2 linked regions of the Homo sapiens genome follow. The protein of the gene in region 2 interacts with the protein of the main gene of each other region in a pairwise test. Each region holds a gene or a part of one and is shown on either strand. Other genes may lie near its edges.

Evidence for each region. The genes of interacting proteins can lie anywhere in the genome.
Region 1: the proteins of TMEM182 (region 2) and MS4A3 interact in binary tests that used the Homo sapiens proteins (3 or more experiments, as listed by UniProt).

Annotation. Positions count from the first base shown.
Region 1 is NC_000011.10:60,066,647-60,071,630, reverse strand, and holds the end of MS4A3 (membrane-spanning 4-domains subfamily A member 3), read right to left. Parts: intron 4,681-4,984; coding exon 4,519-4,680; intron 2,058-4,518; coding exon 1,956-2,057; intron 1,428-1,955; coding exon 1,398-1,427; 3' UTR 516-1,397; downstream 1-515. UniProt on the Homo sapiens protein: Hematopoietic modulator for the G1-S cell cycle transition. Modulates the level of phosphorylation of cyclin-dependent kinase 2 (CDK2) through its direct binding to cyclin-dependent kinase inhibitor 3 (CDKN3/KAP).
Region 2 is NC_000002.12:102,793,022-102,800,054, forward strand, and holds part of TMEM182 (transmembrane protein 182 isoform a precursor), read left to right. Parts: intron 1-4,841; coding exon 4,842-4,979; intron 4,980-7,033. UniProt on the Homo sapiens protein: Negatively regulates myogenesis and skeletal muscle regeneration via its association with ITGB1. Modulates ITGB1 activation by decreasing ITGB1-LAMB1 interaction and inhibiting ITGB1-mediated intracellular signaling during myogenesis.

The DNA of each region.
Region 1 (4,984 bases), on a different chromosome or scaffold from region 2:
TTGGATGTTAATCCGACTGGGTCGGTGCACCTAAATAATTAAATAATTCCTCCTCAACCCCTCAGTCTCTCTGGTTCCTTAATTATCCCGCTGCAGAATGGATTAAAAAATAAAGAAATAATTATTATATAAGTAGGATACAAGTGTTAGAAAAGAACCTTTGCACATACGATATACACGTAACTAAGAATAAATTATTGGTATAAATTTATGGACACAATAAGTGCTTATATTTCTTATTCATAAATTTTATTTTTCTTGGATATTTATGAATAAGAAATATAAGTGCTTTAGCAGATTTATAAACGAGGAACTGAGGGAAGTTTTCACGCCACATTGCCACCTCGAAAAGATGGCTATTGGAGTTGTTGGAGGTTATACGAGGAGCCACAATGGAAGTGTAAGTAAGTTTTCCACTGTATCTCTCCAGCACATCTGACCACAATCCCACCTTAGCTTTCACCAGCAACAGCAAGACCAACAACAACAGCAACATCATTGTCAAGTACCTGTGGTGCTGTTTCACATTTTCTTTTTATTTTCATTTAACCCTCAGAGCAACCGACAAAGTAGTTGTTATTATTACACCTATTTTACAGATGAGGAAAAATAGATCAGAGAGATTAGATAATTTGCCCATGTTCATACAGGTAATAAGTGACAGTTTCAGAATTTGAACCCAGATGTGTCAGATTCTAAAGGCCTTATTCTTTAGTTCTCTACTTTACAGTTTCCCATTGTCCTTTGAAGAACACATTTGGGCTTGCTCTCAGACTCGCCAACATAAATCATCATTTACATATCAGGGCATGTGTGAGTTCCAGCAGTTCACTGAAATAAAATCCCTGAGCCTTAACCCTCCCATCTCAAATACAGTGAAAATTTATTTTAATGATAATGATGGTAATTTTTTATTTGACACTTTTTATAATGCTGATGTTAAAGTCAAGAAGCATTTCTCTGTAATGGAAAAAATGTCTCATTTTTCTTCCTACTGGGCGGTCAGAAGTTGGATTTTAGAAAAAATATATTGAATAGGGATTATACCGCCTTCCTTCCTTAAACCTCATAAAGCAATGGAGTAGGTGGATAAGAAGAAATAGAACCAATTTCTGGAAACAACTTTGGAGTAATGATCATAGAAGTTACAGATATCCAAGAATGCCTAAAGAAATATATCTGTCCTTCCATACCCACGACACACAAATAGGATTTATAGTTAGGAGAGAAAGGATAGAGTCAGTCAAACGTCCAAGGTTCTTGTGATTGGTGCCATGATAGAAGGATTGAGCTTTACGAGCAGGCTTATGTTCTCCTGAGTTTGTGGGTGAAGCTCTGAGTCACTGGAGATTTAAGGTCAAATATTCATGCTCTCAGAATTAAGGAGGTATTCTTGATTACACAGAATTGGGAGGTGAGGAAATTTCCTAGAAAATAAAACAACATTAATGTCCAAGAACAGGATCATTATCTCCTTCTCCTCCCATCCCTTCCTGTTATCATCATAATCATCAACAATAAAATCCATTCATTGATGTTTACTGTGCCAAATGCCATAAAGATTATATACACAGTACTCACAACAAACATTAGAAGAGAATGAAAATATTATTTTCATTTTACAGTTAATATATCTAAAATTTAGAAAGAATTATTAATTTTTCCTAGGTCATACAATTAGAAAGTTACAAGTTATAAGAAAATAATAAAACTTAATTACAGCTGTATAAGAAAGTATGCTCTTATATATCAAGTACAGTATTTCCTCTTGCATGTTCACATCCAAATTCTTTTCTACCCTTCATTCCATCTCTAACATTCATACAATCTCTAATTCCAGGAACTCCACAAATCATTACCACATAAAGGTTTATTTCTAAGCATCAGAAACAACTTCAAACCCTACAGGGAGGCTTTGAGATCATGTGAATGATTAATCATTTGAAAAATCTCACCTCTCTTGAATTACAGCAGTTTGCATTGCACCACATGGCTATGGTAGAGATGGTTACGCATAATTCCAGCAAGGTGAGAATCAGCAGTAGAGACACCATGCCCTAGGGGATATGATGCCTTATATCAAACCCAGTGGCAACATCCAGAGGTAAAAAAAAAAATGTCAGCAGGAAACCAGACTACAACATCTCCCTCCCGTAAAGTGGAACAAAGTGAACCATAAATTAAAGACAGAGACACATATAACACTGTAGAAGAGATAGTATCTCAATCTAAAAGCATGAAAACATTTTCTCTAATGAGAAAGATGTGTCACATTTCTATGTCAACGCATGTGAAGTAGCTACAGGGGGAAGAAGCTGTAGAAACAAAATTCTGACATTATCACTAACATCTTCCAATCTGAATAGTAGTAAACTAAGGAGAGGAGTAGGCAGTTTAGAAAAATGAACAAAAATGGCCCTTCCACAATTTCATTAGCACTTCATAGGGGTTTAGGCATTTACATTATCCCTAGAAACTAAAACACTGAGCTAATATAAACAAAAAATAAAATTGTTGGGCTAATGATTCTACTATTATTACTGAGGCACCTAGAAGCAACCAATACAATATATCCCTGGAGGAAAAATACCTCCAAATTCACAGAAAAATCAGGCTCCGACAAATATAAATTTAGATCATTAAAAATGTAATAAAGAAAATGAGAACACAAACTTCCATAAGTAGTGTCTCACCCATAGGTGGGAACTGAACAATGAGAACACTTGGACGCAAGGCGGGGAACATCACACACCAGGGCCTGTCGTGGGGTGGGGGGCTGGGGGAGGGATAGCATTAACAGAAATACCTAATGTAAATGACATGTTAATAGATGCAGCAAACAAACACGACACATGTATACATATGTAACAAACCTGAACGTTGTGCACGTGTACCCTAGAACTTCAAGTATAATAATAATAATAAAAAGAAAACAGGAAGCTTAGGAGTGAGTCTGTAATTAACAGTTCATAGATCACTGGGATGAAATGGATAATTCCAAAGGAAAATATTAATTTCTAAGTAGAGTTCAGAAGAGGTAGAGTACCTGAACACAAATTTTTAAAAAATTGGTAAGGTTGGCTGGGCGCGGTGGCTCATGCCTGTAATCCCAGCACTTTGGGAGGCAGAGGCGGGCGGATCACGAGGTCAGGAGATCGAGACCATCCTGGCTAACACAGTGAAACCCCGTCTCTACTAAAAATACAAAAAAAAAAAAAAAACAATTAGCCGGGCGTGGTGGCGGGCGCCTGTAGTCCCAGCTACTCGGGAGGCTGAGGCAGGAGAATGGCGTGAACCCAGGAGGCGGAGCTTGCAGTGAGCCGAGATGGCGCCACTGCACTCCAGCCTGGGTGACAGAGCAAGACTCCGTCTCAAAAAAAAAAAAAAAAAAAGGTAAGGTTATTAAAGAGCTTTCCTTTGAAAACACCATGCTAATTTCATTCTAAAGCGCAGTCCTTCAAAACTTCAAGTCATTATTTGAACATTCCAGATTGCAGAGAAAGTTGTAAATCTCTCAAGTTTGTTTTATTAAGCAAGGAGATATGAAATGAAACTTTATTTTTTTATTTTTTTATTTTTTGAGACAGTTTCACTCTTTTTGCCCAGGCTGGAGTGCAATGGCGCAATCTCGGCTCACCGCAACCTCCGCCTCCCGGGTTCAAGTGATTCTCCTGCCTCAGCCTCCCAAGTAGCTGGGATTACAGGCGCCTGCCACCATGCCCGGCTAATTTTTTTTTTTGTATTTTTAGTAGAGACGGGGTTTCACCATGTTGGCCAGGGTGGTCTCGATCTCTCGACCTCGTGATCCGCCTGCCTCGGCCTCCCAAAGTTCTGGGATTACAGGCGTGAGCCACCGCGCCCGGTGAAATGAAACTTAAAAAAAAATCTCTCTGGGGAGTGTAATAGTAGTAGTTGTGGTAATAATAATTGTGTATCATGATATGCTAAGCCTTGTTTTAATTGCTTATCATATGTTAACTTTTTAAATACTCACATAAATCCTATGAGACGGGTACTATTGTTATCCTCATTTCAAAAATGAGAAAATTCAAGGGATTATCTAATTTGCCCTTCATTATAAAGCAAATAGGCGACAGACCCAAGATTCAAATTATGGGATGGGCGCGGTGGCTCACGCCCCTTATCCCAGCACTTTGGGAGGCCGAGGCGGGCGGGTCACGAGGTCAGGAGATCAAGACCATCCTGGTTAACACGGTAAAACCCCGTCTCTACTAAAAAAATACAAAAAATTAGCTGGGCATGGTGGTGGCCGCCTGTAGTCCCAGCTACTCGGGAGGCTGAGGCAGGAGAATGCTGTGAACCCAGGAGGGCGGAGCTTGCAGTGAGCCGAGATCACTCCACTGTACTCCAGCCTGGGCGACAGAGCGAGACTCCGTCTCAAAAAAAAAAAAAAAAAAGATTCAAATTATGGCACATTGGTACCTGATATATTATTTTTCTGTACATCCTGGATTGTTTGAAATATTTTATACTTATACATATTTTTCAGAAACATACATTTGATATGGAGCCCATGTAATTGCATAGGTCCGGTGACTCTGATGAAGAGTGACAACTCCTTAATGACTGGATATTAACTGCTATATTTAGTGAGAGAAAAGCAGTCCCCACTAGTGCAATTGTAGCACTGGCAATGTTCATTCCAAAACTGTTCTGTATCTAAAAAAGAATAAGAATTTTCAATTAATATATGCAGCACGTACTTCATTCCTTTGGCAACAATTCATTGAAACAAACATTGATTGAATATTGTTTACACACCCACTGATATCCTAGATGCGAGGCTAACATCAATGACCAAAGAAAGATTTCTGTCCCCCACCCTCCATGGAGCTTATATTCTAGCAATAAAAACAAAGAAAAAAGTAAACATACTATAGGTAAATTACATAATATTTTTGAAAGTGATTAAGTACTAGGGGCTAACAGAATGGGATAAGGAGAATCTGGGAATCCAAAGAGA
Region 2 (7,033 bases):
CTCTGCCGTCTGTGTGACCTGGTTCAGGATCCCTGAGCCTGGGCTTCCCTGGCTCATCTGATTCGGGCTGTCAGTGCCTCATGTGAGCTTCTGCTCTGCTGCTCATCACCTCACTTTCTCAGTTTTCCAGTTCCTAGGGGATCACAAGGATGATTCCAATTCATCTTTCAAACTGTTCTTCAGAAGGCATGGGTCAGAGGTCACCGTGCATTGGCTCTGTGTCAGGTATCTGCTCCCATTTACTGATGTTTTAGGTTTGTAGGAGTAGAGTCATGTGATATGGAACATGGCCACTACCTTTTTAGGAGGTAAATGGACAGAAAACGTTCCCATGAGAGATGGTATGAGAACTTCGTAGAACTTTCTGTATCAGTAGTCTACTTTGCCCAAACATGACTACTGCACTCTAAGCTATCATTTAAAGAGATGTTCCAACCTCAGTGGCACATCAGAAACAGTGTACAGCCATCCAGTTGTCCCTCAGCATCCACATATAATTGTTTCCCGGACCCATCCCCCTGAGGATATGAAAATCTGTGAACACTCAAGTCCCTGATATAAAATGGCATAGTATTTGCATATAACTTATGCACATCCTCCTGTATACTTTAAATCATCTCTAAATTACTTCTAATATTTACTACAATGCAAGTACTAGGTAAATTGTTGCTATACTGTATTGTTTTACAATTTGTATGATTTTTATTGTTGTATTGACATTTTTTGTTGTGTTTTTCCTAAATATTTTTGATCCATGGTTGGTTGAATCCACAGATGCAAAACCCAGATAGAGAGGGCTGACCATACAAGCTAAGGGAAAGAATACATGTTCCTATTGCTGAACACAAGACCCCCTGCTGTGCAGTGATAATGCAATCTTGATAATAATAGCAATAAAAGCCACCACACATGGTGGCTCATGCCTATAATCCCTGCACTTTGGGTGAAGGTGGCAGGAGGATTGTTTGAACCCAGGAGCTTGAGGCTGCAGTGAGCTGTGATTACATGACTGCACTCCAGCCTGTATGACAGAGCAAGACTCTGTCTCAAAGAGAAAAAGAAAAAAAGAAATGCCTTTTATTGGTTTCTTATTATATGCCACACACTTCACATACATTGTAAGTCATTCTTCTAATAGTTCTAAAGGATGGACACAAACATCTCTATTTTACAGAAAAAGAGACTTCTAGGAGTTTCAGTAACTGGTCCAAAGTTACCTTGCAAGAAAGTGGTAAATACTCAGGTCACTCGGACTCCAACACCTATGTTTTTCTACTGTATTATGCTGATTTTTTAAATTTTAACAAATATCATTTAAAGAAACTAAGACAAGAAATAGATTCTACTTTATTTACATGGATATTAATCATTTCTGCTGCTCTTCCTCTGTTTCTGAAGTTTAACGTGCACTCCGGTGTCATTTCTCTTTAGCCCAAAGAACTTCCTTTAGCATTTCCTGTAGAACAGGTCTGTTGATAACACATTCTACTCTTTCCTTCTTCACAAATGGCTTCACCCTACCCTTCTTTCTATATTTTCACCACGTGCAGAATTTTAGTTGAAGGTCTTTTCTTTCAGCAGCTTAAAAATGTTTTCCCACTGTCTTTTGGCTTCCATCATTCTTGATGAGAAAGTTAGAGCCTTGGGATTATTTCCCCATATGTTTTATGTAATGATTTTTTCCTCTGGCTGCTTTCAAGACTTTTTTTTTGTTTAGAGTTTTTGGTAATTTTATTATTATGTGTCTTGACTAATTTATAGGAGTTTATTCGCTTTGGAGTTTGCTGAGTATCCTGTATCTGTAAATTTGTGTTTCATCACATTTGGAAAGTTTTCAGGCATTACTTTTATGAATATTTTTTCTTCACCAATATCTACGGCCTCTGCTTTAGGACTCCAATGACACAAATGTGAGAACTTCTGATATTGTTCCACAAGCCTTTGAAACTTCATTTATTTTGTTTTCAATCTTTTTTCTTTCTGTTTCTCATATTGAATAATTTTTATTGCTTTATTTTCAAGTTCACTTACTCTGTCCTCTCTCATCCCTGTTTTATTATTGAGTCCATTGCATGGGTTTAATTTCAGATATTGTGTTTTCTAATTCTAAAATTTATTTTTGTAATTTATAGACCTTATAATTTCTTTATATTTATTTCAAGAGTATTCACCCCAGTCTATAGAAAATGGTTCTAATAACTACTTTCAAGTCTGTCTGATAATTCATATATCTAAATCATCTTTGGTTTGGCTGTCTCTTTGATAATTGATCAGATTTTCATTATTGTTGGTATATCAAGTAATTTCAGGTTGTATCCTGGACACCTTGAATTTTATGTTGTCAAAATTCAAAGTGTTAAATTCAGTGGAGAATTCACTGTTAAAATTCTCTGGATAATGTTGATTTTTAAAAAATTTGATTATTATTATTTTTTCGGCAGGCAATCAACCAACCCAATCTGTCCCTTTCTTCTGTGGTGGCAGTTTCAATTTTAATTCATTTTTCAAAGTCTATGTGATGCTGTTTGTGCTGTGCACCCTGGGGCGCACACCACTCAGGGCTTGCTCTGGAACCTGGACGGTCTTCAAACTGTAATTTGGTTCTTAAAGACTTTGCTATGCTTCTTGGTCTGTTTCCTGTGCATGTGCAACTTGGGGGTGTGCTTGGTATTTGTGTAGGTTCAAACGTGGAATTTTAGAGTCTTTTCTTTAGCTCTTTTCTCTGTGGGATTTTCTTTACACCCTCTGGCTCCTCGGACTCTTTTTCCCAGTTTCTCTGGCCAGAAAGGTTGAATTCTGAGTTCTGGCCTCCTGCGCTGTGGCACAGTTCCATGCAGCCATGACACATAGCAAGCAGCAAGAGAAAGGAGAAAAAACATAACCATGATTCCTCCCTCCTCTTTGCACAATGAGGGTTCCTTTTTGTGATTCCTCTATCTAGAGGGTTGGGTCATCATTTGGGATTTTAAGTGCCCACGCCTCCACTGGGGCAGCAGTGCAGACCTGTATTTAAAGCTGATCTGGAGGCAGGACTAAGGGAATAAAAAGAGGAAAAAATAAACATGGGGATTTACTCTGGCTTTAGGGGGCTATTTTCCTAGATTTCTAGGAAATGAATTCAACTAAAGATTTTTGCTATTCGCACCTTTTACACAGTTCCCCATTCGCTTGCCTTCAGGCCAAATCCATGAGGAAAAAAGAAGAAAATCAGATAACTTTGCAACTTGATCTCTGTTAAGACTTGACTTTCCTTCTCACTCCACTTGCTATTATTTACTTTCAGTCCTTATATGGTTGCTTGTCATACTTACCTAGTTTTAGTTGTGATCAGTACAGTCGTAGAATGGATTTCTTATTCTCTGAGCTGCTTCTTGTTGTTAATGATTATACCCCTAGCACTTGGCACAGAAGCTGTCCTGTGAAAGATAACCTCAACCTATTTCTAAATGAAATAAATGAAAATGTAAAATGTGAGACTCACCAATTGCCTAATAAACTATGGTAGGACAAGGACAGCAAATATTTGGCCACACTCTGCAACTCGTAATTTCCATACTCAAAGCTGACATTAGTATCTCTTCACTGCCCTGTTCCCTGCTGAGCCTGAATACAACTGCAGAATATTGTCTAACACAGCAGCCCTGGAAACCATGCCAAGTGGCCAGCACTGGTATGGGAAGTGAAAGCCTATCATGTATTCCTGTTTTCAGGACTTGGTTATTCACATAAAAATCCGAGCCTTCCTTTTCCATTTAACTGAAGTGACTCCTCTTCTCAAATTTCCATCCTCCCATCCTCTTTCCTGTAAAACTCCAGTTGATTGATAGATTTCTTCTTTGCCAGGAAGGCTTCTTGAGAAAAAAAAATATTCTTTTCCTTCTTATCAAGTTGTATATTTTCTTAAAATATAACTTGACTAATATGTTTCACTGAGCGTTCCCCCATCTATACTATCAAGAATTTATTTTAGCTTTTTATCCTTTTGGAAATGATGAAATTGGTTAAGATTGGTAATTATCCAACTCAAAAATGATCGTTAGAATTCCTTTTTGTTTGATTACCATATATCACCAAACCTACTATTTCTTACCAGCTGTTTCCATTAATTTAGCCTTGCTTGTCCTTGACTCCTATAGACTCCTATACTTCTCATTTTGAATCTAAGTGAAAATATTAATAGAAAGAGGTAAGCCTTAAATACATCTGATTTAAATTATCAGATTTGCTTGGAAAGCATAGCTAAACGAACTTCTTTTATGGTTTTGCTTGTCATTTTTTATTGCCTTAGACTGTTTTCTATAGAGCCAACAATCTAAATAGAAGTGGATATTTTTGTTGTGGTTAGGGGCTTGGGGTGACTATTATCAGCTCTCAGAGATAATCATGGTACAAATATATCTTAGAAGAAGATGTGAGGTAGTGTTTGTAAATAATGTGAATGCATTTACATGTGTTTGGACATTCGGTATGAAACACTTCTAGGCTACCCAACTGGGTACTTAAATGGGAGAACTCTTTAGAAGCAAGAACCTTAGGTCTTCTTGCTTCTAAAATGGAAAATCGTGATGGAAAAAAGAGCTCCCACAGTATATTAAGCATGTGTGTGGTACAAACATTGAGCAAGAGGAGTTGATTGAAGGTCACCAGCTTGGACATCACTGATTCCAAGGTCATCTGATAAGATCTCCTGTTTGTTCAGACCCATCCCTGGCATTCTATCTAGCAGTGCCATAGCTGAAATTAGAAAAATGAAGATGAAAGCAACTGACTGTGACAATCTGCTGTGTACACAATCTAAGTGTATTTTTCTTTCTTTTCTCTTTTCCTCCTGGGGTCTCCAGTTTACCGTGGTTTCTGGGCAGTCCTGATGCTCCTGGGGGTAGTTGCTGTAGTCATCGCAAGCTTTTTGATCATCTGTGCAGCCCCCTTCGCCAGCCATTTTCTCTACAAAGCTGGGGGAGGCTCATATATTGCTGCAGGTACGTACGGTGCAATGGGTATGACTTTCAGCCACGGTTTTTCTTCATGTCTTTCTATTTTTCATTTCTATATTCAGGCGTCAGCCTTCTAGTAACAGTAACACAATAATATTTGTATACAATACTTCTTGAACACTAACTAATAATATTTGTATACAATACTTCTTGAACACTAACTGTGTGTCGGACACTTTTCAGGGACTTTCCCTTTTCCACATGCTGACACATTTAACCATCATGATAGTCTCTGCTCACTGTAAGGCCATTATTATAAAGAGGAGAACACTGAGGCTTAGAGGAGAAAACTCTGTCACTGACTCACTCCAAGGTGTGTAAGAGACTGTTAACCTCTTACCCTATTAATTTTCTGTCTGTAAATGGGGATCGTAACATAAGTCTCTGTAACATATCAGCATATGATATGGGTAGGCATTTTCTGAGCTCTTCAAAGATAGCCCTGTGATGATATTTATGATAAGCATACACTCATGATTTATCATAGGTACAAAAATATTTTTCTACATCACTCCCATTCATTTTCTTAATTGTTTGTTGATGCCAGGTGTGGTGGCTCACACCTGTAGTCCCAGCACTTTGGGAGGCTAAGGTGGGTGCATCACTTGAAGTCAGGAGTTTGAGAACAGCCTGGCCAACATGGTGAAACCCTGTTTCTACTAAAAATACAAAAAAATTAGCCAGGCGTGGTGGCATGTGCCTGTAATCCCAGCTACTCAGGAGGCTGAGGCAGGAGAATCACTTGAACTCGGGAGGCGGAGGTTGCATTGAGCGAGATTGTGCCACTGCACTTCAGCCTGGATGACAGAGCGAGACTTTGTCTAAAAAAAAAAAATAATTAATTAATTGTGATCCATATGAATTATCTGAATATATTATTTTCTGTGTGAAGCTTGCATTTATTTTAGTTAGGTTTCTAACTAATTTAATTTCTGCTAAAATGATCACACTACAAATAGAAAAGTAATTGAAGAGGTGAGTCTTGTGAATTTTAAGCCCTTTTCATTTAATTAGGCAGTGAAAGCCAGACTATTAACTTGGAAACATAAGCACAGGCTATTATTTGTAAAGATAATTCTAGAAAACTAGCCAAACTTCAGTATGACTGAGACCAAACTGTACATACTATGCTGTATTGTAACATCAAACCAGAGTGACAGAGTGCTCCTAGGTGACACTGTAGTGACAGTTGAAGGAAAGGAACAGAATGGAGAAGGTTACTGTCCTTCTAATCATTGGAAAGATGGCTTGTGATGCTGCCCAGTGTCATTTCATCAGTGCTCAGGTAACACAATACTTTCTGCATAAGATTGTGCTTAATTCTGCAGAGGGAATAAAAATAATAATCAGATCTAGATCCTGTATTTTGTAGGGGCCAAGAGGAACAGAAGGTTCCCTGAAAAATCCACTTGGAAAAGGCAGATTAATTGAAGAAAAGGCATACATATAATTTCATGTGTATACCTGGGAGCTTTCAGATTGAAGACCCAAAAAGATATGGGCAAATTGTCCATTTTTATGCTTAGGTTCAACAAAGGATGGGCAGCTGTGTAGAAATATGATTGGACAAAAAGGGCAGGATCTAATGGTCATAGACTAAGTGGGGAACCCAGCGAGGCCTGTCCGTTTAGCTTCTTCATGGCTTCACTGAGCAGCACGCCTTCCTTCTGGGTGTGGGGCGGGACCCTCTCTGGAATTGGCAAACAAGGTAGGTCCGGTCAATTCCTTTGTCCTTTGTGGCCAATTTTTACACAGAAAGGTGGAGGGAGAGTTAGAGTAATATGTTCAGGTTTCGTGGCTGGCTTTGGGGAAAGGAGTTCTGGTTTCTATGATTCACCTTTGTGGAGAGGGGACCTTTGTGGTTTCTAAGGCCAGCCTCGGGAGAGAACAGGACTGGGAGGCAGGAGGGCAGGAGAAGGTCAGAGAAAAACTTTTGCTCCTGAGGCTGCTGCTGGGGCTTCATTTTGGAGTTTTGTTTCCTGAGCCCCAACAGTTTAAAGAGCTAAAAAAAAAAATCTCACTCTGAGAAGAACCCTGTT